Regions from separate parts of the Homo sapiens genome. Here all the other regions are linked to region 1. Evidence: fine-mapped expression QTL. A gene starts in region 1. Each other region holds a variant in brackets. All regions are shown on one strand. Distances are from middle to middle. Region 1 holds the start of HMHB1 (histocompatibility minor HB-1). Region 2 has its middle 82 kb from the start of HMHB1. Region 3 has its middle 160 kb from the start of YIPF5.

Evidence for each region. PIP is the estimated chance that this variant, and not a neighbour inherited with it, causes the effect. A credible set is the group of variants that fine-mapping cannot tell apart.
Region 2: its variant is the best candidate, but not a certain one, in a credible set for the expression of HMHB1 in lung (TOPMed, PIP 0.74).
Region 3: its variant is the best candidate, but not a certain one, in a credible set for the expression of HMHB1 in subcutaneous fat (FUSION, PIP 0.50).

What each region holds. Positions count from the first base shown.
Region 1 is chr5:143,808,158-143,818,712 of GRCh38, forward strand. It overlaps HMHB1 (histocompatibility minor HB-1), which reads left to right and starts at 4,004. Exons shown (of 2, transcript NM_021182.3): 1 at 4,004-4,147. The coding sequence starts at 4,111.
Region 2 is chr5:143,889,158-143,899,712 of GRCh38, forward strand. No RefSeq gene overlaps it. Among named protein-coding and RNA genes, the nearest start is that of HMHB1, 82 kb to the left of the region's middle. The variant C/T (reference allele first, on the strand shown) is at 5,480.
Region 3 is chr5:144,005,372-144,015,926 of GRCh38, forward strand. No RefSeq gene overlaps it. Among named protein-coding and RNA genes, the nearest start is that of YIPF5, 160 kb to the right of the region's middle. The variant T/C (reference allele first, on the strand shown) is at 4,703.

The sequences.
Region 1 (10,555 bases):
TAACTCAAGCCTCTGTTCCTGAGAGCCAGAGTAAACAAAACAAAACAAATGTGCTCCGTTGAAACTTTCAAGCTTCCTCCAAAGGGGCCTGTCAAATTGGGGATATCCTACCTGCCCTCAGTTATCCCCTCTTAGGTCCTGAAAAATGCTAAACCTGGCCTAGACCACTGAAAGGGTTGATGACGTTTCTGTGTTTCCTCTCTATCCTGTTGGGGTATTATCCATGATATTGTGATTTTCAATATGTTATATTAACCTCTATATGGTATACATCTCTTGCCACCTACTTATATTTAGGGTTCATGATTCTAAGTCCCACATATGTGGGTGTCCATGACAAAATTCCAATCTTAGATGATACTTTTTGCTGTTCTCTCTTTTTCTAATAGCAAATAATTTTCATGATAGTAAACAGCAAATCGAATAGCAAAACTTAAATGCCCATCACTAAGAGACTGGTTAAATAATTATGATACATCCTTACAATAGACTATGCAGCCACAAAAACAAATGAAGAAGGTTTTAAGGCACCAATATAGAATTAACTTGTAGACATAGAAGTAAGTGAAAAAAAAGAGCGTGGAAAATCATGGGGATAATATGCTACAATTTACAAGCTTGTATATCTCAAGCATCTCTGAAAGAATATATAAGAAACTAATATTGGTTGCCCTAAAGGAAGAGACCCAGGTGACTCTGGACAGAGATAGAAGGAGATTTTCTGTACGTTTATACCTTTTGAACTTTTGGATTATGTGACTGCATGAACTGTTTTAAATTAATATGTAAAAATCAATAAATTTGGGAAAGGGGTTAGGGAGATGTTGGTCAAAATAAACAAGAAAAGATAAAAGAGGAGGACCAAATTAAAAATATAAAATAAAATCTACCAATAAAATTTATAAATTTATAATAGTCAAGGATTAAAAGTTTTCAGAATATTATATCATATATATGTAGATACAGAATAAGCAAACAGATTAAAATGATTATAACTATGCCCGCTATTGGTAGGTATAAAGTGATGCTGAATTTTAACAACTTAATTTAAAATCTTTAATTTTAAAAATTAATTTAAAATTAAATAATTTAAAATTTTAAAAGGTTTACAGTAGGTTTAAAAGTGGTGCTGAATTTTAAAAATAACCATGTATGTCAGAACTTATACACCATGTAAAGAATAACCTGTTTAAGGTCACCTTAAGAGGTAATACACTTACTTAAATGTAGCTGCTACTGCTGAACCTATTCTGGATTTCTCTAATATAGGGTTTTAAAATTTGGGGTCCATGGAGTCTGTGGATAAGATTCAGAGGCCTGTAAATCTGGGCAGGAAAAATTATATCTTTCTTTGTACTAACCTCTTTATGAAAGTTAAAGTTTCCTGGCCAGGCGCGGTAGCTCAAGCCTGTAATCCCAGCACTTTGGGAGGCCGAGGCAGGCGGATCACAAGGGCAGGAGATTAAGACCATCCTGGCTAACATGGTGAAACCCCGTCTCCACTAAAAATACAAAAAATTAGCCGGGCGTGGTGGCGGGTGCCTGTAGTCCCAGCTACTCAGGAGGCTGAGGCAGGAGAATGGCATGAACCCAGGAGGTGGAGCTTGCAGTGAGCCGAGATTGTGCCACTGCACTCCAGCCTGGGCGACAGAGCAAGACTCCGTCTCAAAAAAAAAAAAAAAAAGGAAAAATAGAAAGTTAAAGTTTCCTTTAATTATGAAAGCAATAGTAATACCTAAATTTTTGTTACCAGTGAAAATTCTGAGTCTAATTTAATTCTGTTATTTTCATAACACATTTTAGTTTTTGCAGATATCTGTAAATATCATTCCCAGGTTGATATTAGACATTTTTAGATCTTCTTATTTAATATGTTATTAAAGAAGAAAATATGTTACTATGTCACAATTTTTAACATTTTGATAACTGTATTCAATATAATTGGCTCTTTATAATTCTATATATTTTCTTTTATACTTATAAAAATGATGATTCTGAGACAGAGTCCAGGGGCCTTACCAGAGTGCATAAGCTTCCCAAAGCACAGAAAGTTAGACCTCCACACCTCCACAAATAGATCTAATTTCAGGGCAAGAAAAGCAGTGATGATGCTTTATGACCATATGTTCTTTTTGACAAAAAAGCAGTCTTTAACAGTTTTGGCTAATTGCAAAAAGCCAATGCATTCTCAAAGGAAAAAGATATGCCAACACTGAAGATACTTTTGAGAAAATTCCATCATCAAAGAAGATGGTTTTTGTTTTTTACAGACCCAGTCTTTCTCTGTCATCCAGGTTGGGGTGCATTATTGGAGTGATCATGGCTTACTGCAGCCTCAAACTCCTGGGCTCAATTGATCCTCTGGCCTCAGCCTCCTGAGTAACTGAGGCTACATGTATGCACCACCGTGCCTGGCTAATTTTTTATTTTTTATTTATTATTTTTTTTTGTGTGGGGATGAGGTCTATGTTGACCAGGCTGGTTTCAAACTCCTGGGCTCAAGCGATCCTGCTGCCTTGGCCTCCCAAAGTGCTGGGAATTACAGGTGTGAGCCACAGTGCCTGGCTAAGATGGAGTTTTATATACAGAATTATCAGGCCTTCTTTCATATCTCATCCTCAATATGCAAATAACTAATTCATTTAGCAAATATTTATTGAACGTCCATTATGTATGAGGCACTATTGTAAGTATTGGAATAAGTGCAGTGAACAGGTCAGATATGGTAACTGCCTGGATGGAGTTTATGTTATAATGGAAGCAAATAGACACAAGAAATATGATCGCATCAGGTATTTATAAGTGTTATGGTGAAAATAATGCAGAGTAATCTAATCTAGGGAGTGAGAGGGTGACTAGGGTCACCCATGTGGTGGCTAGGTGCCTGGGTCTGGCGTTGCACTTCTTCCATTCAAATCCTGGCTCCATGCACCTCTGGCTCTATGGCCTTGTCCAGTTGTGCACTCTCTAAATCCCAGTTTTGTTACCTGTAAAATGGACATATTAACATTACCTACTTTAAAGAGGTGTTTTAAAGAAAATGGCTACTCCTAACATCTCCCCAAGAACCAAGCACAGAATTTTGGAAGTTTTAATATATTTTCTTAAAGAAGTCTCTTTCTCAGCATTGTAAGACAATTAACTAGATTCAAGTCTCAGAGTTGTTAAGTTATTTTATCTTAAGGCATCCAACGGCACAGATTGACATTAAAGTGAAAGAAGAACTAGCTTCATCATTGCCATTGTTCTTTACCATAGCCCATGGGAACACAGGACCCGGCTGACTGAGAAAAGTGAATGAGGGGAATTATATCAGAAATGACAGAGAAGGATGGGCAGGATTTCTGGCAGGCACAGGTATTTCTAAGTAAGAAATGGTGTGGTTAGGAGAGAATACTCTCAAGAAGGGGAGAGATGGATTCTGCGGCAAAGGGAGGTTCCTTCATTCAGTGTTTATGGAGAGAATAAAGGCGCTGGCCCCTCCAGTGAGGATATGGAGTAAACGAGACAATCAAGTCCATCACTCCTGGAGCCTGCATTCTAGTGTGGAAGACAGACAGCAAATGATACATCAACATTAAGAAATTCATGAGTAAATAAAGATAATTTCAGGCAATAATAATTACTCTGAAGAACATAAACAGGGACCTATGATAGAAAAGGGGTGTAAAGGAGTTTGGAGGATTTAAGCTGAGTGAGCAATCTCATCTCTATTTTGATAAGGTCACTGTGGATTCTGTGTGGATAACACATTGGATGTGGATAAGAACAGGAGCAGAGAGACCTCCAATAGCAGGAGGCTGCTCTAGGGGTCCTTGCAAGGGATGCTGGCAGCTTGGACCCGAGTGGTGGGATGCAGATGGAAGAGGCAGGTGGACAGATGAGACAGCTGAAGCAGGAAAAGCAGGCACAAAGGCTAACACAACACAATGTAACAGAACGGGAGTTTAGAACGGAAGGAACACTCCAGAGTCATTCTGGTCCAATTCTGCAGATGAGGAAACCACATCCCAGGAGGCCGAGGCGGCTTGCCCCGCATCTCAGAAGCCGGGCAGGCCCTGAGCCTTCTGACCTCACATCCTCTGCCACACCACAGTGGAGAAACCAGAACTGGAGGAGCAGCCAGAATGCAGAGAAGAAAAAAGAGGTGAGGGAGCGAGGAGGAGGGAGAACAGAGAGAGAGGGAAAGAGGCAGCGAAGGGGCAGAGAAAATGAAAGAAAATGCTGGTGGAATGAGAGGGAAACCACAACAGGTGAAAACAGGGATGGCGGAAGGCAGGGGAGAGGAGTGAGACGGCCCTTGTTGCTGGGATTATTTAGGGCGGATAGTTTCCAGTTGAGGTTCGGTTTCATAGCCCATTGCCTGGCTGCCTGCAGCTGTCAGGGCACCAGAGGCAGCAGTTGGAGCAGCTGCCTGCACCACCTGAGCCACAAGGACAACGGCAAGGGAAGTGCAGATGGGCAGGAAGTCCCTCTGGGTCGGAGCCAGGGTAGCCAAGATCACATTGTTCTTGCCCACCGCGTGGGATGCTCAGGCTTCCCAAGGCAGCCCAGAGACCAGACCCGTCCTTTATCCTTAGCATGGCCACCATCATCACCATCATCGCCATGCTCCCACTTCTTAGGATCATGTGCCGGGGGCTTTGCATGCATTTCTCTCTTTCATCCTCACAGAAGCACTTGAGGGGGGTATAGCTTTCCCCAGTTTACAGATAAAGACACGATGGCTTCATTCCTTAACTCACTAACCTCATTTCAGAGCCAGGAAATGGCAGAAAGGCCCTGCTGTCGTGTTTTTTGTTTGTTTGTTTGTTTTTTTGTCTTGTTTTCTCCTCTTGAAGAGGACACACGGAGCCCTGGGTTGACGTTATAGGAGGTGTTGGTGCCGTGCACTGAAGGGATCTGCTGTTTTCTCCTTCCTGCAACTGGAGGTCACTCAGCCTGGACTGATGAGGCCGGGGAAGCCTGTGCTCTGTCTGGTCCACACAGCCCCCTCAGCCACCCCAGGGAATGCTCAGATCCAGTTGCACAGGTAGCCCACAGAATACAAACAGAACTTTCTTTTAGAATTTTTATGCTGTTTTATTGTTTCATACAGACAACTACCGACCTTCCCTTTTTTCCTTCAAGGCCCCTTTCAAATGTCACCTCTTCTATGAAGGTTTTATTTCTTTCCAGGCAAAATAAACCACTCCCTTTTTGGTGCCCTCATAGTTTTACATTTTGGCCTAAAGCACTTGTTCGCCTCCTCCATCAGAGCATGGGATTCTTGAGGGAAGGAACTGTGTTTTAATCATTTCTGTATCCTTGGCATCTAGCACAGTGCTTGGCACAGTAAAAGCTGTCAATAAATGTTAGCTGAACTGAAAAGTAAAAAATGGAAAGGGCATTTGTTGGGGCCAGCATAAGTCAACTGTTTCCATCCTTGTTTCCTTAACTCAGAAACTCAAATGAAGAAAGACATTGTCAGTCTCATGAGCAGTCCATATTTTTTTTTATTGGTGAGAGATAAAGTAAATGGCATGTGGATTTCCTTTGGAAGAATAACAAATAAAATTCTTTTGTAAGGATGTGAATTATAAAATTAACTTTTTTTATCTCCAGATTGTCATTTTGCAAGGAAAAAAATATAAGTAATAAATATGAACATACCTTTTTTATTTCAGACTTTTGCTCCATAGGCAATAGAAATGAGATGGCCAATTACAGTATTGAAGCAGAAGTACAGATATAACTCAGTGCAGAGGCAAATATGGCACATGATATTTTCATATTTTTATGTGTTACTATGAGTAACACTATTGCAAATTCATTTTATTTATGATTTGGTCTTTGTAGCTCCAATTTCATTATTAACTGAAATTTCATAGCATCATTCTTACTGACATGCATTGAAGATAAAAATGTTCTATATTTTCCTCATCTATCCTTGTCTTTTTCTTTATTAAAAATGTAGCCATTGGCAAAATAAAAGAACTAGCAATAAGCATACTGAAATCACAACTGAGACACATGACAATAATCTATAACCATGACACCTGTCCAGGCTGCATCCAGCCAAATATGGATCCAAAAAAAGGAATACTCATATTTGTTACTTATATTTTTTTCCTTGCAAAATAACAATTTGGAGATAACAAAAAGTTAATTTTATAACTCATATCCTTATAAAATACTTTTATTTGTTATTCTTTGTCTCTCGTCAATAGAAAAAAATATGGACCGCTCATGAAATTGACAATGTCTTTCTTTATTTGAGTTTTTGAGTTAAGGAATAAGGATGGAAACAGTTGACTTACACTGGCCCCAACAAATGCTCTTTCCATTTTTTGCGTTTCAGTTCATAGTAGGAGCTCACTCAGGACTTAGCTGTCAGAGAGAGGACAGTCTGAGGCCTATGTGCACTTCCCAGCACAACATCTCACATCCTCCTCATTTTTTATCACTCAAGATATTGAAAAACTAATATGCAAGGATGCTGTCATTATAGGGGTAATCTTCAATCGTCTCTAATTATATTTAAAATTATGTCATAAACTTCAGAAAGTAACCAGTATTAGTGTATACCTTATTATTAGCATAATCCAAGCTGGCCTCACCTACAAATAGAGTCATAATTATAAAAATTTTATCTTTTAGTCTCCTACTTTCTCAAAATGGAATTTGTCCCCACTAAAAGTTATCCTTCAAAGTAGTGCTTCACCTGTGCCCACAAATACCTGTGGCTATTGCACAAATATTGTGTGGCTTCTACCAGGTTTTCTTCCTGACCTAGCTCTCATTTGTTGATATTTGTTATCCCGTCAAACCTTTCTGTTGCTCAGCTTTGCAGCATGGATGGTGCAAAAATGCAAATGTTGCTCTGTCTGATACTGTTCCCAAAGCTGGCAAATTGTAGGATGTCACCATGGGGCAAGCTCCATGAATGAAGGGATTAGGGGTGAAGAGAAGAGAGAACTGACCTTTCTAACAAAGTTCAGAGACCTAAATTACTGAACTTTTCCCTAATTCTGTATTAGTTTCCTATTGTTGCTATACTGAATTACCACAAATTTAGTAGTTTAAATCTGCACAATTCATTATCTTACAGTTAAGAGGACAGAAATCCAATCAGGGCCTTATTTGGCTATAGTCAAGGTGTCAGTGGGGCTGTGGTTTTAGCTGAAGGCTCTTAGGGAGAATCCTTTTCCTTTCCTTTTCCAACTTACAGATTTACCTGCATTCCATTGCTCATGGTCCCATCTTCCGTCTTTAAAGCTAACAATGTTGCAGCTCTCTAACCTTTTTTCAAAGTAATGTATCCCTTTAACTTTCCTGTTTTGCTTCCCTCTTCTACTTTTTACTTTTTCTTTTTTCCTTGTATTTTTTTCTTTTTTTTTTTTGAGATGCAGTCTCGCTCTGTCGCCCAGGCTGGATTTGGAGTGCAGTGGCGCAATCTTGGCTCACTGCAACCTCCACATTTCGGGTTCAAGTGATTCTCCTGCTTCAGCCTCCTAAGTAGCTGGGATTACAGGTGAGCGCCACCATGCCTGGCTAATTTTTGTATTTTTTTTTTTTTTTGAGACGGAGTCTCGCTCTGTCGCCCAGGCCGGACTGCGGACTGCAGTGGCGCAATCTCGGCTCACTGCAAGCTCCGCTTCCCGGGTTCACGCCATTCTCCTGCCTCAGCCTCCCGAGTAGCTGGGACTACAGGCGCCCGCTACCGCACCCGGCTAATTTTTTGTATTTTTAGTAGAGACGGGGTTTCACCTTGTTAGCCAGGATGGTCTCGATCTCCTGACCTCATGATCCACCCGCCTCGGCCTCCCAAAGTGCTGGGATTACAGGCGTGAGCCGCTGTGCCCAGCCCTCTTTTCCACTTTTAAGGGCCCTTTTATTACATTAAGCTTTCTCAGATAACCCAAAAGAATCTCCCTATTTTAAGGTCACCTGATTAGCAATCTAAATTCCATCTGCAAACTTAATTATCCTTTGCCATAGTTCTGAGGATTATGACATGAGCATCTTGGGGGAGAATATTATTCTGCTACCAAGAATATATTTTTTAAATATTCTCATTTCCATAGGTTATTGTGGAGTAGGTGGTGTTTGGTTACATGAGTCAGTTCTTTAGTGGTGATTTCTGAGATTTTGGTGCACTCATCACATGAGCTGTATACATTGCATCCTATTTGTAGTCTTTTATCCCTCACTCCCTTCCCACCCTTTCCCCCTGAGTCCCCAAAGTCCACTGTGTCATTATTATGCCTTTGCGTCCTCACAGCTTAGCTCTCACTTATGAGTGAGAATATATGATATTTGGTTTTCCATTCCTGAGTTACTTCACTTAGAGTAATACTCTCCATTCTCATCCAGGTCACTGTGGATGCCATTAATTAATTCCTTTTTATGGCTGAGTAGTATTCCATTGTATATATATACCACAGTTTCTTTATCCACTCATTGATTAATGGGCATTCGTATTGGTTCCATGATTTTGCACGTGCAAATTATGCTGCTATAAACATGTGTGTGCAAGTATCTTTTTCGCATAATGACTTCTTTTCCTCTGGGTTGATACCCAGTAGTGGGATTGCTGGATCAAATGGTAGCTCTACTTTTAGTTCTTTAAAGAATCTTCACACTGTTTTCCATAATGGTTGTACAAGTTTACATTCCCACCAGCAGTGTAAAAGTGTTCCCCGTTCACTGCATCCATGCCAGCATCTACTGTGCTTTGATTTTTTGATTATAGCCATTCTTGCAGAGTAAGATGGTATTGCACTGTGGTTTTGATTTGCATTTCCTTGATCATTAGTGATGCTCAGTGTTTTTTCATATGTTTGTTGGCCATTTGTATATCTTCTTCTGAGAATTGTCTATTCATGTCCTTAGCCCACTTTTTGATGGGATTTTTTTCTTCCTTGCTGATTTGTTTGAGTTTGTTGTAGATTCTGGATATTAGTCCTTAGTCCTTTGTCACATGTATAGATTGTGAAGATTTTTTTCTCACTCTGTCAGTCATCTGTTTACTCTGCTGTTTCTTTTGCTGCGTAAAAGCTCTTTAGTTTAATTAAGTCCCAGCTATTTATCTTTGTTTTTATTGCCTTTGCTTTTGGGTTCTTGGCCATGAAATCCTTGCCTAAGCCAATGTCTAGAAGGGTTTTCCCAATGTTCTCTTCTAGAATTTTTATAGTTTCAGGTCTTAGATTTGAGTCCTTAATCCATCTTGAGTTGATTTTTGTATATGGTGAGAGATGGGGATCCAGTTTCATTCTCCTACACGTGGCTAGCCAATTATCCCACCACCATTTGTTGACAAGGGTGTCCTTTCCCCACTTTATGTTTTTGTTTGCTCTGTCAAATATCAGTTGGCTGTAAGTATTTGGGTTTATTTCTGGTTCTCTATTCTGTTCCATTGGTCTATGTGCCTATTTTTATACCAGTACCATGCTGTTTTGGTGACTATGTCTCATAGTATAGTTTGAAATCAGGTAATGTGATGCCTCCAGATTTGTTCTTTTTGCTTATCTTGGTTTGGCTATGCGGGCTCTTTTTTGGATCCATATGAATTTTAGAATTGTTTTTTCCTAATTGTGTGAAGAATGATGGTGGTATTTTGATGGGGATGGTGTTGAATTTGTAGATTGCTTTTGGCAGTATGGTCATTTTCACAATATTGATTTGCAGTAGCATCCAAAGATATCAAATACCTAGAAATAAATTAGTAAATGCAATGCAAAAATTCTAGGCTGAAAACTACAAAACTGCTGAAAGAAATTAAAGGAGACCTTTGAAAATGTGGAAAAGTATATTATATTCATGGATTAGAAGGCTCAATATTAAGACAGCAATATCCCCAAACTGATCAATAGATTCAATGCAATTCCAATACAAATACCAGCTGGATTTTTATCAGAAATTGACAAGTTAATTCTCTAATGTGCAAAGAAGCATTCAAGGTAGGACACATTAGTCATTTGTGGCAAATATTCATGCAATTCTGTTCAAAAAATTATTGAACTTCTATATTATTCCAATAGGCATAGTAAAAGAGGAAACAGAAGCATAACAAAGTGGTAAGACAGCCCTGGGTTTAAATCTTAACTCTTTGCCCATGACCTTTACACATCCACCAGAACTTATAGAATTCTTTAGGGGAAGGGTAGGGTAGGGATGAAGGATGGGTAAAATTTGAAAGGACATCAAAGCTTAGATCTAACTCACCCACCTCCACCCCTACTCAAAGTACTGGATAAAGAAACACTGTTCTAAATAATTTTTTAAAGTGATACTATACTATTAAGTTGGAAGGGACCTTAAATAGTATTATATTTACCCAAGGCCTAAATAGAGTGAAGTGCTTTGCTCAAAGTTACACAAGTATCAAAGTGACTATTATTTATCACAGTCAGACCAGAGCCCAAGCCCAATAGCCCAAATGTGGATACAAATTCCAGATCTTCCACCAGCCAGCTATGCAGCCTATAGTTAAACCTCTGAAATTTGGAACTCTTCCTTGAAAACATGGGGAGAAATAACATCTTTTTAAAGGATACTTTATGGAGTAATAAGA
Region 2 (10,555 bases), 81 kb after region 1:
TGGCACTAATTTAATTCTTATGACAACATTGTGAGATAGTTCATGTTACTAGCTCCATTTTCTACATCAGGACATCGAGGCATGAGAAATTTTAAAATGTGCCCACAGCAAAATGATAATCAGCCATAGAGACAGAGTTTGGATCTGGGCAGTTTGCCTCCAGAGTGCCTCATCACCACCACCAGCATACACCATCTTTGTGATAAGGGCTGCCATTAAAAAGAATATTTCAAGAGGATACAAGGAAGAAGCTGATGCAGAGATGAGGGAAGACTAACCCAGTAAGTCATACGACAGTCAGCATTTAGCGTGTATAGAGATTAGCTGGACTCCTTCGGGCTTCTCTGCTGGATGGATCTTGTTTTGCAGATGAGGAAACTGAGACTGCAGGATTAGCTAATCATCAAATAATGAGGGTGTAGCAGAACCAGGATTTGATCTCCTTGGGTTCTTTTCCCTGGACTCCTATTGGTATACAGAGTGGCACAGAGCATGAAGACAAATTCTGCCTCAAAATGAAAGAGGCCATCACTAAGATGAATAAGATGGAACAACAATTTAAAAGAGAATGCCAGCACAAGACTGTCTTAGAGATCGCTCAGACTAACCTTTTGCTGGATGAATTAAACCTCTGTCAATAATCTTATTAAAAAGATTGGAGACAAATTTGGGAATTAGAATGACTGATGTCTGCCCCCATCTCCTCTACCCGAAACACAACAGGAGAAAATTTTGCTTGAAAGCCTAGATGCTGATCCAAGCAATGAAAAGACTCTGGAGTAAACACGTCATGTGCTTCTTCGTTAAATGAGCCCTCTGCCTAGGAAATAACCTCAATGGCTTGACACTGGCATTTTGCATTGCTTGCTTATGCCACTTAAATTATAATTTGTTCCATCAGGGGACTTTCTCAGAGTTGGAAACAGCTCCTGGAACACAGAACCAGCATTGGTGGATTCTTGCTGCCTCCTTGATGTTGCAAGCTTGTCAATGTCATCAGAAAGCTAGCTGTGGTTTACTGAAAATAATTTAGCTGCCTAGGCTTATGCAGACACGCACACACACACACAGAGACAGAGAGAGAGAGACATAGACACAGATACGTTATGTAGAAAAATCTCATGGTCTGCTCTTGTTCTAAATCTTGTACAGACTTGCCAGCACTCTTACGTATCATTATTTGATTTGCTTATTCTATCTCTTCACTTGTCAGTAAGTCTTTCTCATCTTTTTATTCATTTCTTTTGTAAAGAGAGTTTAGACTTAAACAGAGCTGAGCTCCTCTAGCCCGTTCTTTAAAGGCAAGGCAACAAAATAATAAGAATGGATAATAATAACAGTGTACTCTCCGATATGCACTAAACTAAGCACTTCACACAACTTAGCTCATTTTGTCCACACAGAAACCCTAATGAGATAGGTACTCTAATCGACTCCATATGACAGGTGATAGAACCAAGACAGAGGTTATACAACTTGCCCAAACATGCAGTGCCTCAGATGGGGCCCAGCTCTGGCCGATAGAGCCCTCTGCCTGTATTATTGACCCTGCAGCTGCCTCCTTGTGATTCTTGAAAGTATGCCAGGCTCTGTTAAGCTGAGGATAAGTGTTCTTAATTCCCTTTGAATTTAGTTATTTTTGAATGGATAAAAAAGAAAATATTTGGCATAACCCTTATTCCCCATAGCAGGGGGATTCTGAGGCATGATTTTAATTTCCCAAGTGACTTAAATAACAAGTTTATAATCTGCCACTCACATTTCTTTGCCTACTTAATGGGAGCATTTTTATTAGAAAGAAATATGTTTAAAAAGATACATAAGCTCTGTGAGAGATGGGTACTCATTGGTTTTGTTAATTACAATATCTTCAGAGCCAGGAACATGTGCCTGAGACTTGGTGAGTAGTCAGTAAATATTTATTGATTAAACGAATGAATAAGAGTTGTAGAGAAAATCCAAATATCAATCCATATTCAGTCACACAGGTGCCTGTCCCCCTGATAAGATCATAATAAACTCCTTCAAGGCACCACTAAATGTTGACCTCCAGCTTCCTGAGGCAGATTATTCTGAAATCTGGGAACAGTGTCATATTTATTGAAAAGGTCCCTTACCCCGCCTGAGAAAACAAAGTCACATGTCTTTGTGCTTCTGTGTTAAGTTTCTTTGTCCCTTTGGAAATAGAGGGGAAAGGCATAGCAAACAGGCAAACTCATTGACAGTCATAACCCTATTAAAGCTATGACCCATGTGCTTCAGTTCATGAGAAACTTGACATGTAAACACTATCCAAACAGGAATTCTGATGAGTTGTGGTATTCTCAAGCAACATAAATGAGAATAGGATTAAAATAAGCTGTTTTCTCCCGTGGACTTAGAAGTTCCTGGAACCCTCTCACTCTCTACTCCAGAACCACCTCCCTGGTCTCACCCATTCAACCTCTGTCATCCCACTTGAAGGCCATCTCCTGTCGCTCTTCCTCCTCTGCCTTCCCACACAATGGACTCTCAGCATGTTATTTCCCCTGTGACCTAGGGTTCTCCAGAGAGCAATATTTCCTCTGTGCTGTCTGTCTTTCTCTGCATCTAGTCTCTTAACTTAGCATGGCCAATGGAAGAACCCTCCAGGTAGGATGAGGAAGGAAAAGAGTAGGCAAAATCCAAACTTTCTTCACAGACAGGGAAGAGGGGAAAAGGTTGTGGATAGTCATAGACTGATACCTTTGTCCCTTTTACTCATAAAATCACTGCTGTACATTTCAAGGGTATTTCTCCCAATTCTACAGATTTTTTAAGGATCTAGTAAAATCCTATTTCTCAAATAGTATTTATCAATCACCAAAGAACCCTTAACTTTCCAAAAAGAAATGGCATTTATAAATCCCATAGGCCAGGCTTAGAGTATGTTTTGTCATAGCTCTTAGTTTTCTACATTATTTTGTAGCTTATTTGCTGATTCAAACCAGCATTTAGTTATTTTTTGCAAAATAGACTTAAGATTCCTTTTTCTCCTGTGTACAGCACAGCCCACTTGGTTGGTACTATATTAAACTGCTCGCTTGCTATAGCCATCCTCCTGTGTGCATCAAAACTTCTCACTGTCACATTTCTGCCCAGATATTAATAAACATGAGTGGGAAGGGGAATAAATGCACGAAGTGCTGCTGCTTAGCCTTTCTCAGCCTGTGGATCTTCCCTCATCTGTTTTGAAGACAGGGTGAAGATTAGGCAGGCAGTGAGCCCAGCTGTCTTAGGGAGAATCCCTAAGGGGAGATGCCTGTCAATTGAAACAAACAAATTTTTGGATACCAATATGGAAACCTGGATGGAGCCAATTTCCATGCTACAACACTGCCATTATGACTGAGCACATCAGGATAACAGGAAGCAGATGGCTTTCAGAAAAAAATGAAAAATTCAAGGGCACCACACATATGGTCTTATTTCCCAAACTTTGAAGGAATTCTGCCTGTGAAAGTGTACCTGTTTAATCTCTCCCAAGTAAAAGGCAAGTAACCCCTAAAGGGCACCATATATTTCTTTTAATAAAAAGTTGGCTCTATAACTTTGTACATGCAAATGTTTGTCAGTCTTGGGCCCAGAGCAGTGGAAGGTTGCTCCCGGGAAGATAGTTCTGGGAATGATGTTATATTTATTGAAGCTATATACTGAACCTCTGCCTTTGCCAACTTGTGTCTGTCTTGCTCTGCATTTCTTTCTACCTTGCTGTTTCTGTTAGCTCTGAGAACCAAGGAGGAAGATGAAGCCATAGATCTAAGAATGACAGACCTGGAAAGGACTATTCACAAAGGTGACCTAAGGAGACGCTGGAGCTCCAATAGCCTGAGGGCCAAGAGCACAGGCTCTAAATCAGAAGTGGCATCCAGGAAGCCTAGGACCACACTCTGCCTACAGATGTGTTTATTGGGTTCTTGAAATGTTTAAAGAAACACATTTGGATTAAATGGATGCCAACGTTTATAAATTAGGAGATTTTACATCCAGTCAGATATTACAAAACATCAGAAGACTGGGGCCTACAATTGCCACACAGCCTCAAAATGCTGGCACTGAGTAGCCATTCTTGAAAACATACATGTGCTCTGACATTTGCCATGGCCCCTTCCTGACTGTGTTTACTCATTTGTGTTACCTGGCTTGCCTAGAATGCCATGGACCCCTTTGTCCTAGTTTCCAATCCTGGCTTGGCCACTTAGAGTTTATGAGTCATTGGTGACATCAATTAGAGCTTTTGAATCTTTATCTGTTTAGCTTTATGATAGAGGTAATACCTCATCACAGTGTCAGGTGAGTTAAATACGATATTGCATGTAAAGTGCTTAGCCTGATGCCTGGTGCATAAATACTTAGTATATCTTAATCATTATTACCATTAACATTGTTCATATCATTGAACAAGCTTGTTAAAATATTTTTCTCACTCTCCTTTGTAATATAAATGAGAAAATACAAAATATGGCCACAGATATAAGCCTCCTGTTGCCTTTATCTTTAGGGTCATTAGACGTACTTTAGAACAATTAGATTATGTAATTTGCCCAAAGCCATGTAGAAACTGGGCAACTGTCTATTTTAATTAATCATCATGGGGAGACAGAGCTGAAAGCTAAAGGTTCTATGGAGGAATGCCATGGTGTGGGGCAGGCCAGCTGTGGCACAGAGGTCACTGGTTCCACTTGGCTAGCTAGGTAAGGACACGCACTAATCACCACCAAGAGTCAGTGAGTATTGTGAAAGGACAGCTTGGCTGGGAGACAGCTGGGTTTCAATCACATCTCAGTCACTTCTAGTTCACATTGGTCATATAACCCTCTGAGTTTTATTCATAATTTATAAAATGAAGATGGTGACAACTGTCTGGCAGTGTTGTTGTAAATGATAAGCATCAAATGCTTAGCACTCAGTAAGTGCTCAATAAATGGTAATTATAAATAAAAGCCAGAATAAATTATAATAGGTCATCTGTTGAAAATGGCTAAAGTCTTTATTGAAAAATAGCAATCCCTAAGAGTTTATTATGAACTGCTGCAAAATCTGAGACACATAACCCCAAATTAGTGTCATGTGCTTTTTGAACCACTGTAATTATTGTTATTTACCAATCACTATTTTCATTAATGCCTCATTACTCCCAATGATATTCCCAATAATACTCCAGGGGATTTTTTTAAATTTTAAATTTGTGATTCATGGTTTCTTTCTAATATGAATGGTATTATGCCTCCTTTTAGTTTTAATTTGGATATAAAAATTCTGCTTTAGCCCTCTTCACTACTTCAGTCTAGTCTTTGCTGATTCCAGCAGAGAGTTACAAATTATATTTTCACATTATATTCAAAATACTTTGCCACTCACTGATGTTTTGAAGTTGCTTGGAACGAGCACATCTTGGTTCTTAAAGCAATGTATTTGCTCAGTTCGGTGTCTTCTCTCTCGAGTAGCCTTACTTCTAAAG[C/T]CCCCAAAAGCAGCCTCTTTCTCTTTTTGGCCCTTTCTTATACAAGTTGGGCATCCCCAATTCAAAAATTTGAAATCCAAAATGCTCCAAAATCTGAAACTTTTTGAACGCTGATATGATGCTGCAAGTGACATTGTTAACACTGCAGAAAATGCCTATAGACAATACAGTGAAAATGTGTGATGGGCTTATTGAAGGACTAGAGGAGCATGCATTCAAAACAGAACAAGAAATCAGGGCAGTTTATAAAATCAAAGAGAGAATTCTAAAACAAGAAACATTGTTAATGAGGCAGAAGAGCCTGGAGGAAACACCCAGCAGAATGCCTCCTCATCCCTTGAGGACCCACTTCCTGGTCCTCATCAGCTCCTGATGTTTCTTCTCACCTAAAATAAAATACAGTGTACAGTAATCTTTTAATCAAAACACAGCATTGCAGGTGGGGACTGCAAGCCTGGCGTTGTTTGTTGTTGCATTTGTTGAACAGCTGATGCAGGCATTCTGGTGGTGCCACTGTGCTGCTTAGTTACCCTGAACATATTAATTTTTCACTGTATGAATGTATGTCATATTTTTTGCTGTTAAGTTCTTATGTGTGAATCAGTGTATAAAAATGACTGCTTATAAGTAGCATATAAATTCAGAGTCAGGAATGATGATGCCAAATGACCAAAGATTGTCCCCGTAGGTGGCTGAGAGAGTAACACCTTTGCTTTCTGATGGTTCAATGTACACAAACTTTGTTTCATGCACATAATTATTAAACAATACTGTATAAAATTACCTTCAAGCTATGTGTATAAGGTATATATGAAACATAAATGAATTTCATGTTCAGATGTGGTTCCCATCCCCAAGATATCTCATTATATATATGCAAATATTCAGAAAATCTGAACAAAATCCCAAATTCGAAACACTTTTCATCCCAAACATTTTGGATAAGGGATGCTCAACCTGTAATGGAGGCTTAGGAGAGCATTTGATCTACCTGCAAAGTTGTCTCTGTTAATATAATTTATTTTCATTCACAGTCTGCAAATATTTATTAGTGCCTACTAGTGCCAATCCCTGTTCTGATAGTAAACTGTTATGAGCATTTATATGTCACCTGGCACTGTGCCTCACTGATTTAATAGTCTCATTGATTTAACCTAATGACCTTGTGAGATAGAAACTGCTAACATCCCTATCTTAGAGAAGAGAAAACTAAAGCATATAAAAGTTAAGTAATTGGCTCAACATGCTCAGCTAGTTAGATACGAAGCCAGAAATTAACCCGGATCTGCTGATTGCTGAACCCTAAACTCTTAATCATTGTACCAGAGTGTCTCAAAGTGAGGGCCTGAATTTGTGACCTGCTGCATTAGAATCACTTAGGTTGACTGCTAAAATTATAGAATGCATAAGAGGCATAAAATGCTTAGTGCACAGTAAGTGCTTAATAAATGGTTAATGATAAATAAAGACCAGAGTAATTATATAAAAATTATAATAGGTCATCTACTGAAAATAGCTGAAGTCTTTATTGAAAAATAGTAATCCCTAAGAGCTTAATTATGAAATGCTGCAAAATCTGAGACACATAACCCCAAATCAGTGTCATGGCCTTTTTGAACCATTATAATTATTGTTATTAAGTAATCAGTATTTTCATTAATGCCTCATTACTCCCAATGACATTCCCAATAATGCTTCAGGGGATTTTTTTAAAATTTAAATTTGTGATTAAAAACTAGCCCTAGACCTACTAAGTTTGCATTTTTAGCAAATTCTGTGGAGAATTTCTGTACACAGGTTAAGAATTTTGAGAGCCACTGACCAGAGTTTTTGAATACCAGATCTAAGGAAATGGGTCTAAGATGGGGAAGCTTCTTCAAAGTGAAGGTGAACTTCCATGAAAGAAAGTAAATAAGGGTTCACACTAAGAATCACTTGTGAAAGATGCTCTCTAGGGCTAAAGAAATGCTATATAATTAAAATGCGCTGACATTCTGCCTCTGCTTCCTTTCAAGGCTATAGTCACAAGGAATATGACTCCAAAACCCAGTTGTAGGCAGGGTAGTACTGAGTCACTTTCTAAAATTTCAAAAAAACATACAGCATGCTTCCAACTCTAGAATTTCCAAATAAGAGGATTCGAAGGCAGCAATGTGGTTGGGGCAGAGGGTGGGGTGGAGGTGGGGGTGGATCTAAAAAACCCAATCATTTGGGTTGGTTTTGGAGTGGGTTAGGAGAGCTCTCCTAAGCCATTCTTTGTGCCATGATTGTTGAGGGCTTATCTTTGATCAGACTGACTCTTCAGCCTCAGATAATGGCAGCCAGGAGGTGAATTAACTCATGTAGGACTGACATTTATAAACTTGTATAATGGAGGTGAAAGGGGGCAAATTGCAAACATGATTCCCATACAATCAATTATTTCTGTGATGAAAACACCCTCTCCTAGATGATCTATGTCATGGACAAGTTCCCTTAGTTCTGGGGAGGCTGGGCTGGTTATTTCTCTGCTGCTCAAAAAACAGCTCTGAGCCTCTGGCCTGCTGGTGGTGAGTCACCACTGTCAGCTTTGTGCACAAAAGTTCAACTTTTCCTTTCCCATGACCATATCTTAATGTGCAGAAGAACATTATCTAAATGTAAATGCTCTATTAAAACAGAGACAAAACTGCTTCAATATTGCAGGGGAAGGAAACAGAATTCTTTTAAACAAATAGAAAAGCAAAACTCAATAAAGAAAAGTAATTCATAGACACAGAATAATCAGCAGTCTACTATTTCATGAACTTACTGTTTTGGGCCTTTCTTTTTTTTAATGTAAAATTAGTCAAAGTTTAATAACAAGGGACAAAACATGCTTTTCTGAGCACTAGTATTTCTTATTAGGTTCCTAAAAGATTGAAGAGAATATATTTTAATTGCTTGCTTAACACCAAAGCCCCTCTGATTTTTCTTCCCATATCCATAAAGTTTTATAAGATTCCTTATTTCGGAGCCCTGCAAAGTAAAAATATTCGTCATAAAGCAGAACTGAGCTTTTTATTGCTCCTCTGCCGAATAAGAACTTCCCAAGGGAATGAACCTATAGATCTCAGGCCTCATTCCCTAGTTTCCTGCAAGGCAGACAGTTGGTCAAGCTTTGGTGGGTCTCTTCACATTGCCTCCTTCCCTGACCACCATTTACTCATTTTCTCCTTCAGCCCTTCTGCCTTGCTCTTGGTGACTTCTCAAACCCCGTCTTCTTTCAGTGGTAATCATGATGATGATGATGTTGATGATAAGCATTGGCTAATAACAGGTCACAGTTGTTCTGAAAAGAGACCTGAGACCAGAGACCTGCCTGAGCTCGAAAGCTTGCCTGCAGCCAAGGACTGATGTGGGGTGTGAATGTCCAGCCCCCACGCCACAAATCAGGTAAGCCTGTGGTGTTATTCACAACCTAGAATTCTAGTAGGATTCCCTGCTTCTCCCACTTCCTCAGTAAATGGCTTGCACAAGAAAACCCATCTGAGGCTGTCTCTAGGGAAAGTGACCTAAGACACTTGACCTCCTCTGTATCATGGGGCTGCTTTAAGGATAAAATAGTAAAATAAATAATAAGTAAAAAATAGCTCATATAAGTACAATTTAATAGACGTTAACAAAAGTAAAACACTTAGAACAGTGACTGGCACATAGAAATTGCTGAATAGGTATTTGTTTTTATTAACGTTATAATGTTATTCCTTCAAATAGCTCATGAATCTGTTTGCTCCTCTCTGATCCCACTGCCCTTGCTCCAGGCTAGACTTTCCTCATTTGTTATTTTGATGACAATAAATGTCTCCTTATCTGATCTCCCTTCCCTCTCTTCCTCTCTCTTTTCCTTCCTTCTACAAATATTTGAGTGTTTATTGTATGCCAGGCACTGTTCTACAGGTGAATTTGGGTAAGTGACCTGAGTCTCAATTTCCTTGCTTGTAAAACAGGCTACTGTAAATCTACCACATCCTCCGGTAGTGGTGGGATGAAATGAGAATATGCACATAAAGCACTTATCTCATGCTTAGGAAACACTCTATAACCTTTTTCTTTTCATTTCTCATCTCTCCTTGCTAATCATTTCCAGGACTGAAATAGATAACAGAGATACCCAAAGGGTTCTTGTTTACTGACCATGCTCTCCATTTGACAGATATATTCTTCTATTTAAAGGCCTTGTAATAGAGCTTTTCTACCAATGATAACCTTGTTTTCCCCAACAAAAGCACTATGTTCTTGGCATGTATTATTGTAATATGCATGCTACAGTATAAATCTTTTCAAACCATGAGTTGATGTTAAGGGCTACGCCATGAATTTCCAGCAAGGGGTCACCTTGAGCAGGTTAGCAATCTCCTTTATGTCAAAGGCCCCACACTTCACCCCACATGTGGCCACTCCAGTTAATGAGAATACGGCCCATGATGAAAGCCTGCGTGCTGCATGCAAGCCGAGATAGCAGGGTGAACAGAGAATAAAGCAGAGCTTGAACCCAGTTATGTAAACAGTTCTTTCCGTTTCTTGATCTTTGTGGAAAGAAGTTTTTTCATCCTGCTTCCTTCAGTTCAAGTTCAGGGGTTTCACAGTTTCCTGGGTTCCTTTTGAGGTCTGCCATAGTTTAAATGAATAAAACAGAAAAGTAAACTTCATCCAGGACTTCTGCTGGGTTCCAGCAGAATGCAGGAGGACTGCTTGGTGCTTTTATTGTGTGTGGTTTGAAGATCAAATCTTATCTACAGTTTCTGGATACTGGAGGTGTGTGTGTGTGTGTGTGTGTGTGTGTGGTGTGTGTGTGCTCACACTGAATTACTTTACATTTTCATTTTATTTTTGCATATTTTTTCCTTCCAAGTTTAGTTCACGTTTCATTCTTCACTTTGAAAAATGGCTCTATAGGAGTTTTGCTCAGTTGAAAACTTAGATTTTTTTCTGTCAAATACAAGATGGTAACTGAAGCTTAAAATGCACTGTTTTGTTTGGTTTTAGACATGACTATTCACAGTAATTTGCTAAGACAGCACATATTTCTTTTGATTTATAGAATCCCACTTAAAT
Region 3 (10,555 bases), 200 kb after region 1:
AAATCTCTAGGCCAAACTTAAAATATTTAGGCACTGCTAGGTCAAGCTTAACAATTTTCTCCTTTTGGTCAAATTCTCAATTTTGAAAGATTGACAAAAACTTTAGGCATCAACATCACTATTATTATCATAAATGGGCTTATTCCATCTCAGTTTGGAGTTCACAAATATTTGGTGTTAGTTTCCATCAGTTTTGGAATCTATCTGCTTTTTTAAAGCTTCAGTTTGAATATGTGGCACTTAGCATGAGTGATTCTGATATGGTTTGGCTGTGTGTCCACCCAAATCTTATCTTGAATTGTAACTCTTACAATTCCCACCTGTTGTGGGAGGAACTTGGTAGGAGGTGATTGAATTATGGGAGTAGGTCTTTCCTGAGCCGTTCTCATGATAGTGAATGAGTGTCATGAGATCTGATGGTTTTAAAAATGGGAGTTTCCCTGTGCAAGCTCTCTTTTTGCCTGTTGCCATCCACGTAAGATGTGACTTGCTCCTCCCTGCCTTCTGTCATGATTGTGAGGCCTTCCCAGCCATATGGAACTACAAGTCCATTAAACCTCTTTCTTTTGTAAATTTCCCAGTCTCGGGTATGTCTTTATCAGCAGCATGAAAATGAACTAATACGGATTCCATGTCAGTTTGCTTTATTTTTTGGGGTCTAGTGAAGGAGCTCAATCCCAAACAACGGCCTCTCATAATTTTGTTTAATAATCCCCTCTTTAGGTCAAGTTTTTACCTATGTGAGAGTATGACAAAAATCTAGAGCTTCAGTACTACTCTCAGTTACCATAATTTTGGGATTCCAGTCTCAACATGTCATTCATAGGTTATGGTGTCCACATAATCATGCATTTAAGTTTGGGTTATTCCAGTCAAAGAGATCATTTGGTATTCTACAGATGGCTGCATACAAACATTTAAAACTTTTGAGAGAATATAAAACACCAGGGAGACTATTACTGTGATTAGTAGGAGAATAACAACAATAGTTTGAAGTATATTCCCTACCCAGGGTCTCTATAAATCGAACCAATCAAAATAAAATGATTCAAAGAATGAGCTGAATGAAGAGTCTACACATTTTAACCAGAGAGCCTATTGGTTAATCCTCTGCAACTGAGTCTCTATAATATCTGATATATTCAACCATATGGAGTAAGTGTCAGCAACTGCACATATTCCTCCCTGTTCAGCGAGTAGGTAATCTAGAGCAATTCTATTATAACTCAACTTCAGCAAAATAATTTTAACAAGTCTGTTGTACAACCATAATCTTTGTAGTAGAACCTGCTATGGAGCCTCTTAGGAGGGATAAATTTCTAATTATTGCCTTATTTGTAGTTACTCCAAGCAATGGAAAAAAGGACCTAACAAATGATACACATCCAGAAGAGTGAAGCCATCTGGAAATGTTCTTTTTAACCTATGATGTAGTTTAACAGGTGTGGGCCAACTTTCTGTTTCTGATTGATTATGGTGTCTGACTGATTATGGAGTAATAAAGTTACTATTAAAATTTCCCACCTACATTGACACTTCATCTTCCATTCATCAAGGCTTAAGATTACCCATGTATAAGACTGGCTGAAAAATCCTCTATAAGAAAGTACACCCTGTGGGTGGACACAAGGCCCGTTTTCAAGTTCTATTGTTCATAGAGGCATAAGCAAGTAAAAGATTAAGAGAGCTAAGAGTTTCATGATGGCAGAGGAGTCTTGATCTGTGATCTTGGGAAAGCTGTGTATGTCTAGGATGCCATCTGCTTTTGAAGAGAAACTTCCCTATTTAGCTTTACCTTAAGGTCTTGAAGGAGTGTACAGTTCCAAGAGTCTAAAAGGTCCTTCTGTTTTGTAAGATTATGAACCCAAGTTTTGAAGTTCCAAAGTCTCATTGCCATATGGGTGGCAAGGGCAATCTTTCTCTGATGCCATTTCCAGAAGATCCAGCATCCAGGTTCTAGATTATGAAGGGTTCAATTGTCCTTAGTAGGTGGAGCATGAAAAGATTCCTTCACCTGTTGAAAATATACTTTGGCATAATGCATTAAAACCTTGCAACATTTAGTCATATCAGTGTATAGGAGAGTGGGAGATACATGAGGATCTACTATTAGGAGTATAGGCCTTCTAGTGACTATTTAATAAGGGGTTAATTTATGCTTTCCACTGGAAGTGAATCAGATTGTCTTCCATCTGCAATATCTTTGACCAAGGCAATACAGTCAATTCAGTTATATTTGCTTAATGCTATAGTGTCTGTAATAACTCATTTAACTCTTTTACAATTTTTCCAGTGAAACAAGTACTGTGATCACTGAAGAATGTCCCATTAGGGAAATACATTTTCCTATAAATTTTTAGCTACTGTTGTACCACTAACTTTCCTACATGGGAAAGCTTTTGTGAAGCCAGAAAACATGCATTAAAAATGGCAATTGAATGATATCCCTCCATAAATGTTCAAACTGCCCATTCAGCAGTGGAAATGTACCTGAAGTTTGATTGTCTTCCCTGGATTATGTGTTTGAGAAAACAAACGTGCTCATAAACCATTTTGGCAACTTAAAATAGTCACCACACCAACATTTCTTTTTCAAAATTTGGATTATTTTCTCTCTTCTATGATGTGTCATGGAATGCAAAGCTTTTAATAGTGGAAATTTTAAGGATGCAGAAAGGATGACCAGATGGCCATCCAGGCTCTCCATGAGTGCATGCTTGACACTGAATTTAAATCCTCCTAAATACAATTTTTGTTTCTCCAATTCAGGTGTACAACATTGTTTATTAAGTGGGTTATCATAGGTTATGTGACTTGGATCATGGAGTTCATGCAAATTGCATATCTTAACAATTTCAGTACTGGTTGAATTAGCATGAAAATCTGCCAAAGAATTCCCTTGTATTTAATTAATTCTTTTTCTGCTTGGGGTAGTAGTTTTGTAAATGAGTCAGCCTCTTCATTAGAGTTCTGGAAATTCTTACCAAGTCCAAATGAGATGAACCTAAAGTTATCAGAAATCTGTATTCAATAGTACTTGTCATGGTCCTTCCCAAACTTTCCATGAACCTTTTGGAAGACTCAACTCTTCAAGATTATAATTGCTAGTAAAGAACTTTCAGAAAAAAGCATCAGAATTAAGCAATTAACTGTGGACAACAAGTCTTAAAATAGTCATGGTTAAAGACACAATTGGCAAGTAAATTTGGTTATTCCTGTAGCCCATAATAATTTAACATAATAACCATAATTATGACTGATAACATATACCAAGACATCTCAAAATTTTAGAAACTGCATACAATTTTTGACCACATATTTATAACATATCCATAAAAATATAACTCAAAGAAGGTTAAATGTAATTTCTTATTTAATAATGCTTCCCATATGATTTAATATATCAAATTATCTCTTGTTTGGATGCTTCAGAGGCCCTTTGGGATATCCCCAAATTAGATTGAAGTCAGAAAGACTTATTTTTAGAATTTGAAATTTGATTTTGGAAAGCATGTCAAATTTGTCAAAGGTTTATAACACTATCAAAATCAGTTCACAGGTCATTGTAAAATAATAGTCATTGATTTCATGAAACTGATAACTAAAAAAGCAAAAACCTTTACTCTTTGATAGAAAGAATACTGTTTTTCTAACAATCAAAAGACCTAATAAAGACAGCATGAAGCACAAAAAATATCTTTTTCTTTCTCCCCTGCCCCTCTTTTATTTCAGTTTACTCAAAAGATGAACAAAAATCTTTTACTATCTCTTCTCAGTGTTACACAAAAATCTTGTTTAAAAGAGAAAGCCAAATTCTAATTTTGTATTAGTGTACTTTTGTTATTAATCCTCAATTTTTAGAAAACCTTATAAATAGTTCCCATCTAATTTTAGCCACCTTGATCATACATACAATTTCTTTCACAAGATTCCTGTTTCACAAACCTTCTACAAACTTTTCTCTTCCTCATTTTGGAAGAGCCAGTCATTTTACTTTAGGACAAAGTTACTTTTTTTTTCTCTTATCTAAAACATATATTTTATGTAAGCTTCACTTACCAAAAATGTGTCTTACTTTCCTGATACAAGATGTTGTTTTAGTTACCTTATATTAATTAAATTTTTAAAAACTCTAGTACCTTAGTTTTTAGTGAAATCCTAGGAAGTTAGAATTTTTGAACTGTTGTATATCAATATTTTGTTGATGAGAACCATTTCATAATTTTTTGAAACATATTTCCTCATAAAATTATTTTTGGGTTTATTAACAATCCTAAATATATTTAGTTTCTCTGTATCATATAAAAACAAAGTGTTGAAATATATAAACTTAAGGTTATGCTTAATAATTGTTTCAGTATTTTAACTCACTTATAAACGAGTCAGACTTTCAATGAGTATCTATTATTTAGCTTAACATGACTTTAAGATTTTTAATTTCTAAAAAAAGATTTTTAAAAAAATAACAAGTTCATTTATAAAATTTCATGTCCTTTACTTTTGTATAATTTACTCATTTTTAACAATTATGCCTAATTTTTTTTTTTTTTGAGACAGAGTCTCACTTTGTCACCCAGGCTGGAGTACAGTGGCATGATCTCAGCTCACTGTAACCTCCACCTCCTGGATTCAAGCTATTCTCCTGCCTCAGCCTCCCTAATAGCTGGGACTACAGGCGTATGCCACCATGCCAGGCTAATTG[T/C]TGTGTTTTTATTAGAGACGGGGTTTCACCATACTGGCCAGGCTGGTCTTGAACTCCTGACCTCATGATCCACCCACCCCCCCACCTCGGCCTCCCAAAGTGCTGGGATTACAGGTGTGAGCCTGTCCCTTAAATTTCTTACTAAACAAAACTGTAGCAGGACGAGCTGCAGACAAAACCCCTCAGATACCAAGTTAAAGAAGGAAAAGGCTTTATTCGGCTCAGAGCATTGGCAGACTCACATCTCAAAAACTGCACTCCCGAGGGAGAAATTTCTGCCCCTTTTAAAGGCTTACAACTCTAAGTGGTCCGTGTGAAAGGGTCATGATTGATTGAGTAAGTAGGGGGTATGTGATTGGGGCTGCACGCACCAGTGATCAGAACAGAACTGAACCGAACAGGGAGTTACACAATGCTTCCTCAACAATGTCTGGAATCTATAGATAACATAAGTGATTAGGTCAGGGGTTGATCTTTAACTACCAGGCCCGGAGTGTGGCACCAGGCTGTCTTTCTATTGAATTTCACTTCTGCCTTTTCTTTAACTCCTACTTTCTCTTTCCTTAGAGGCAGAAATTAGGCAGAAGACAATATGAGAGGTGGTCTCCTCCCTTAAAACTAGCTAGTGGAATTTAGGAAATATCATCCCTAAATATAGTGACTTAGTAGATTATTGCTACCAATAGGGAAGAAGGAAAAGGCTTTAAAAATTCTCCTTATTTTTCTTAAAGATGAATTTTTCAAAGGAACACAAATGTCCTCAATCCTCTCCCCAGGGAGTTTCAGTAACCAGGAAAAATTAACTTTCATCACAGTAGAAGACACTTCGTCACATCAAGTAGACATTATCCCAAACCATTACTCATTCTTCTAAAGGGTCATTCAATTTTTCCCAAAACAATTTACTCTAAAGATTTTTCTCCACCCACTGACCATTGTACCCATTTTAGAAAGGGGTGAAGTGAAACAACTCTGGCCTTTTTCTTGATTGACCTGCATGATTATTCCCTAAGTGATTGTTAGTTAGGTTGCTCATTGTAATCTCTGTCTTTAGCTTTTTAAATTTCTCTCAACTGAAGTAAATAGGACAGACTGTGTGGAGTTCTATAATGCTGGGGGATTAGTAGGTATCTCTTTGACCAATCTAGCCTTCAGTAGATTCCATCTTTGTTTTAACCCTATTGCTGTCTGTTTTATTTATCCCATTTTTAATAACCATCTAAAATTATTACCCTCATATTGCATCCCATTTTTAATAACTATCTAAAAATTTTCACCCTACATTTGTATTTCAAAACAGATGGCTTAGGTAAAACAAGGTAGAAAATTTACATCTCAATGGCACAGAGGTGAGACATCAATGTAATATCATCATTTTCCCAAACCTAGGAAGGAGAGTGTAGGTAAAAGACCAGTTAAGACAAGATAGCCAAGAAAGCCACCTTAGACAAAGGTAAGATTTGTTATGTAAATTTAAGCCAATGCTGTTTTCATTGTTATTGTTTCTGGTGACATTCCTTTTTCTCTTCCTGTTGCACAGAGGCAGACACCTTACAAATGGAGATTTACTTTGTAAATGTAAATTTCTTTTGCAAAAGGCTTTCAAAATGGCTAAATAGTGAAAGTTGTATTTTGGAGACTGATTTATCTCAGTAGGAGGTCTTTTTAACTGAGTTTTTATTTCTTTTCAGACCATTAAAGAATAGAGCAAAGAAAGCATTCTCTCTGGGTGGACTCAGAGCAGATGGCTCTCAAAAAGAAACAAGCCTAATTTACCTGGAGCCATACCTTTTATAAACATTTTACCTAGCTTTCTTTCCGCCTTTGAGGTGGAATAGTAACTAAGTCAAAAGTTTAGCAGCTTCAATTTTTCCTATTAATTACTAGCTTAAGCTTTTTACTTGTCCTTTTAAAGGAGTCTTTTAAAAGAAGCAATACAGCTGGGTGCAGTGGCTCATGCCTGTAATTCCAGCACTTTGGGAGGCTGAGGTGGGTGGATCACCTGAGGTCAGGAGTTTGAGACTAGCCTGGACAACATGATGAAAACCCGTCTCTACAAAAAATACAAAAATTAGCTGGATATGGTGGCAGGCGCCTGTAATCCCAGCTACTCAGGAGGCTGAGGCAGGATAATCGCTTGAACCCAGTAGGCAAAGGTTGCAGTGAGCCGAGATTGTGCTACTGCACTGCACTCCAACCTGGGCGAGAGGGTGAGACTCTGTCTCAAAAAAAAAAAAAAAAAAAAAAAAGAAAGAAAGAAAAAAAACAGGCAATTCAAATACTGAACTTTTTCAGAAGTTTCTTCATATTGCTAGGCATCCTTGGGTGAGCCTAATTCGGGAGCCCTCATTTTTAAATGAACTTTTTAAATTGCAGTGTTAATTTGGAACATTCTATTGTAACTTTAAATTATCTTTCATAAGCTTTTGCCATTTATGTAAGTGTTTGCAGCTTCTGGGGCCTAATATTTCTACATTTAAAGGTAATAGTCAGAAGGTGGAGTTCTCAATTCTTCAGAAATTAAGGATCTCATTGTTTTGTTGAATCTAGGCTTTAGCTGTCAGATCCTCTTGCTCAACTTAGTCAAGAATTTTTCCTGACCTAAGTGTACAAGAAAAAGAAACAAATGAAATAGAATACAAAAATCCCTGCAAATTTCTGAATGCCAGAATTTGTACTTCCCTGCAGTCATTGCCATTTATTGCTGTTGCAGAATTTTGCTCCTTAGTTCAGCTAAAACCAGGTTCTTGTCACATGAGTAGGAAAGATTAGGTGGACAGACACACTGAAGGGTGAGAAGAGAATTTATTGGGTGAAAAGAAAAAAAAGTCTCAGCAAAGTAAGAGAGAGTCCTGCTAACAGGCCCTCCACCTCACAGATTGAATACCAGACCACCACACATTGCTGAAGAGACCAGCCTCTTCCCTGCTGCACAAAGCGTGAACTTCCCATGGCTACACCCTGTTCTCCCAGGACACAGGTGGGTCAGAGATTCTCTGGGGACCCTCTCCCTTATCTGCCTCCTTCATCTATCCCTGCCAGCTTCTGTCTGACTCAATCAGACATCTGAGGCCTCTAAACGGATCCAGTCCAGTTAACTGTTGGAACCAATCTGATCCTGGACTCAGTCTGATTCTGGACCCAGTCCAGTTTCTGTTGTGACTTCCAAACCCAGTTTAGATCCAATATTTGCTCAAACAAAGTCAGATAGCTCAAAATACAAATTCATAGAGCTTTTGAATCTGTGAGACAACTTACCTACAATCTCTAGTTGCTGTAAGAGAGCAATGGACATAATGGGCTTGGTATGTACCTCTTTTGATAACTCCATGTGCCTGGAAGTTGTTGGAAGTTCTACTTTGAATCCCACTTCTGACACCATCTGTCAAAACAAAAACTTTATGCAAATTAAATTTAACAGTGTCAACTAAGAAGAGACAAAAGACCAGATTGCAATGCAGTAACACAAGGCATTTGTTGGGGTCTTAGCAATTGCAATTGAAGAGACATAGATTTCGCTTAAAGCCAAATTGTATTCTGAGGAGATGAAGGGGAGTAGGGATTTTCAAAGGGATGCTGATGGTGATTACATGGTTGTTGTTTTAAAAGTTGTTTTGAAAGAATTATCATTGGTGGATGTGGCTGGCTTAGTACATGAGTCCATAGTTCATTGCTTGTTGCTATTTAGGAGTTGCTGCAGTAACAAAAGTCAGCTATTTTTCATGATATTCTGGGTGTGCGGGTTTGGCCCAATTCAAAGTTTCGAGGCGAATTTCTGTTTTTGCAAGGTGGAGATTGTGCAAATAGCCCTTCTTAGAATGGCTTCCTGATTCCACTTTAGACCTCTGAACCAGAGTAATTTTATTTTGTAGCTCATATTTCACAACTGAATTTGATTGAGCAAAGAATGATTTATGAATTGGGCAGCCCCCAGAACCAGAATAGGTTCAGAGTGATTTTGGGGCTGCTACATAGTCAGATAACCTTAATGGACAGAAAAAGAAAACTGATAGATAGAAAACAGAAGTAAGGTATATAAACAGTTGGACTGGCTATAGCTGGATGTTTGCCTTATTTAAACCAGGTTTGAACAGTTGGCTATCTGCAATTGCCTGAGACTGGGCTACTTGTTATGAGTATGTTACAATGTGTTTATACATCAAGTCAGATTACGGTTCACTATGTATGAAGAAACCTTTAGGCCACACTTAATACATGTAGGCAGGCAGCTTTAGGCAAAAGTTAATTTAACAAGATCTTGAAGGCAGAACTCCTTAAAAGGGTAGGTGTCAGGAAGATGAGCAAGTGGCTCCCAGGCCAAGGAAAGGATGTTGCATCAGATCTTTGGTGTTTCAGGGCATGAAAAGATACTCTGGCCAGTTCCTCGGGAAGCGACTGAGGGAAAGGAAAAAATCATCATTGCTATTGGCCCATAAAATGTAGAAATCTCAAGCTAGTCTGTCTGAAACCAGTGTCTAGGAGCTGGTGGGTAGCTTACTGAACACGAGCTTTTCTAATGCTAAACATGAGCCTGCACTGATGCCTGTGGTAGAAGCCAGAATAGAGGATACATACTGCCACCCTGTGCCTCTCGACCAGCTGGGTGATCCCTCAGCTCCACTACCACATCCCTCTAGAGCAGCTGCCATTCAGCAGCCAATACTTCTCCTCATGGTGACAGCTGAAGAGGACATAGCCTTATTCTCTTTCCAGCTAACTAAACTAAGGGGACTCTCCAATTTTAGCAGTGGTTTAAAATAGCTGTAGCGAGCTGAGGCCGTGCCACTGCACCTCCAGCCTGGGTGACAGAGGGAGACTCTGTCTCAAAAAAAAAAAAAAAAAAAAAAAAAGAAGGGTAAAAATGAAAAAAAAATCTGATGTAATCATATTAAAATGGCTTGCTTCATAATCAACTTTTTGGCTATGTCTATGTGATGTTTGATTTTTCTTTTAACTGATCTGACTGATTTCATTTAACAGAAACAGAGATGCATAATCTAGGGCATAATTTAGGCACAACGAGAGTCACCTATGCACAACCACTGAAGTAATTTTAGTAACTGTTGGTGGATTCCATATAAATGCAAGACACTCTCCTTAAGGAAACAGGAGATTCAAGGCTGGGGGAAAAGGGTTCGAAATATAGTAGAGTCACAACACACGTGGGCTCACACATACACAAAGCAGCATATTACAATGGTAAAGGAAAAGAAGAAAAGCTGCAAATAGTCAAGCCATCCAATCTTTAGGCTCTTCAAGAGACTTCTTAAATCACATTTCACCATTGACTAATGGTCCAATTTTGGTCAGATTGGATTTCAAGGCTGCTTTAATAACCTGCCTTGAGCCATTACTTCTGCAGTTGGATGACTTGCATCTTGTAGACATGGCCTTTGCCTCTGAATGTGCACTCAGAACTGCATCAGAATCAAATGCTGTTAAAAAGAATCGATATTTCTGAGTTGGGTTATGGAGGAAAAAACAAGGCTGGAAACTGCATGCTTTCCTATCTTGTTCCACTGACCAAGACATCTTCCTTAAACATGCTTATCTTATAAATACATTTTGGTAGATTTCACCATTTTCAATATCACCGAGGAAGATTAAAAGCCTCTAGCATATATCTAAACTCTGAGTTTGAAGTGTAAATACAAAAACGACTATACTGAAAGAATTAATTTGCCGAGGAATGCACTGTTACTTTGAGGGTCTAACTCTCTGAACACGTGTCAGAGTTCCTAAGGTGACCTGTACTTTAATGTAATATGGAAATGAGGACAAATGACAACAGTTTGGCTCCATTTATTTTTCTAATTCTGTGGGACTTAATTTCACACAGGACAAGCTAACGAA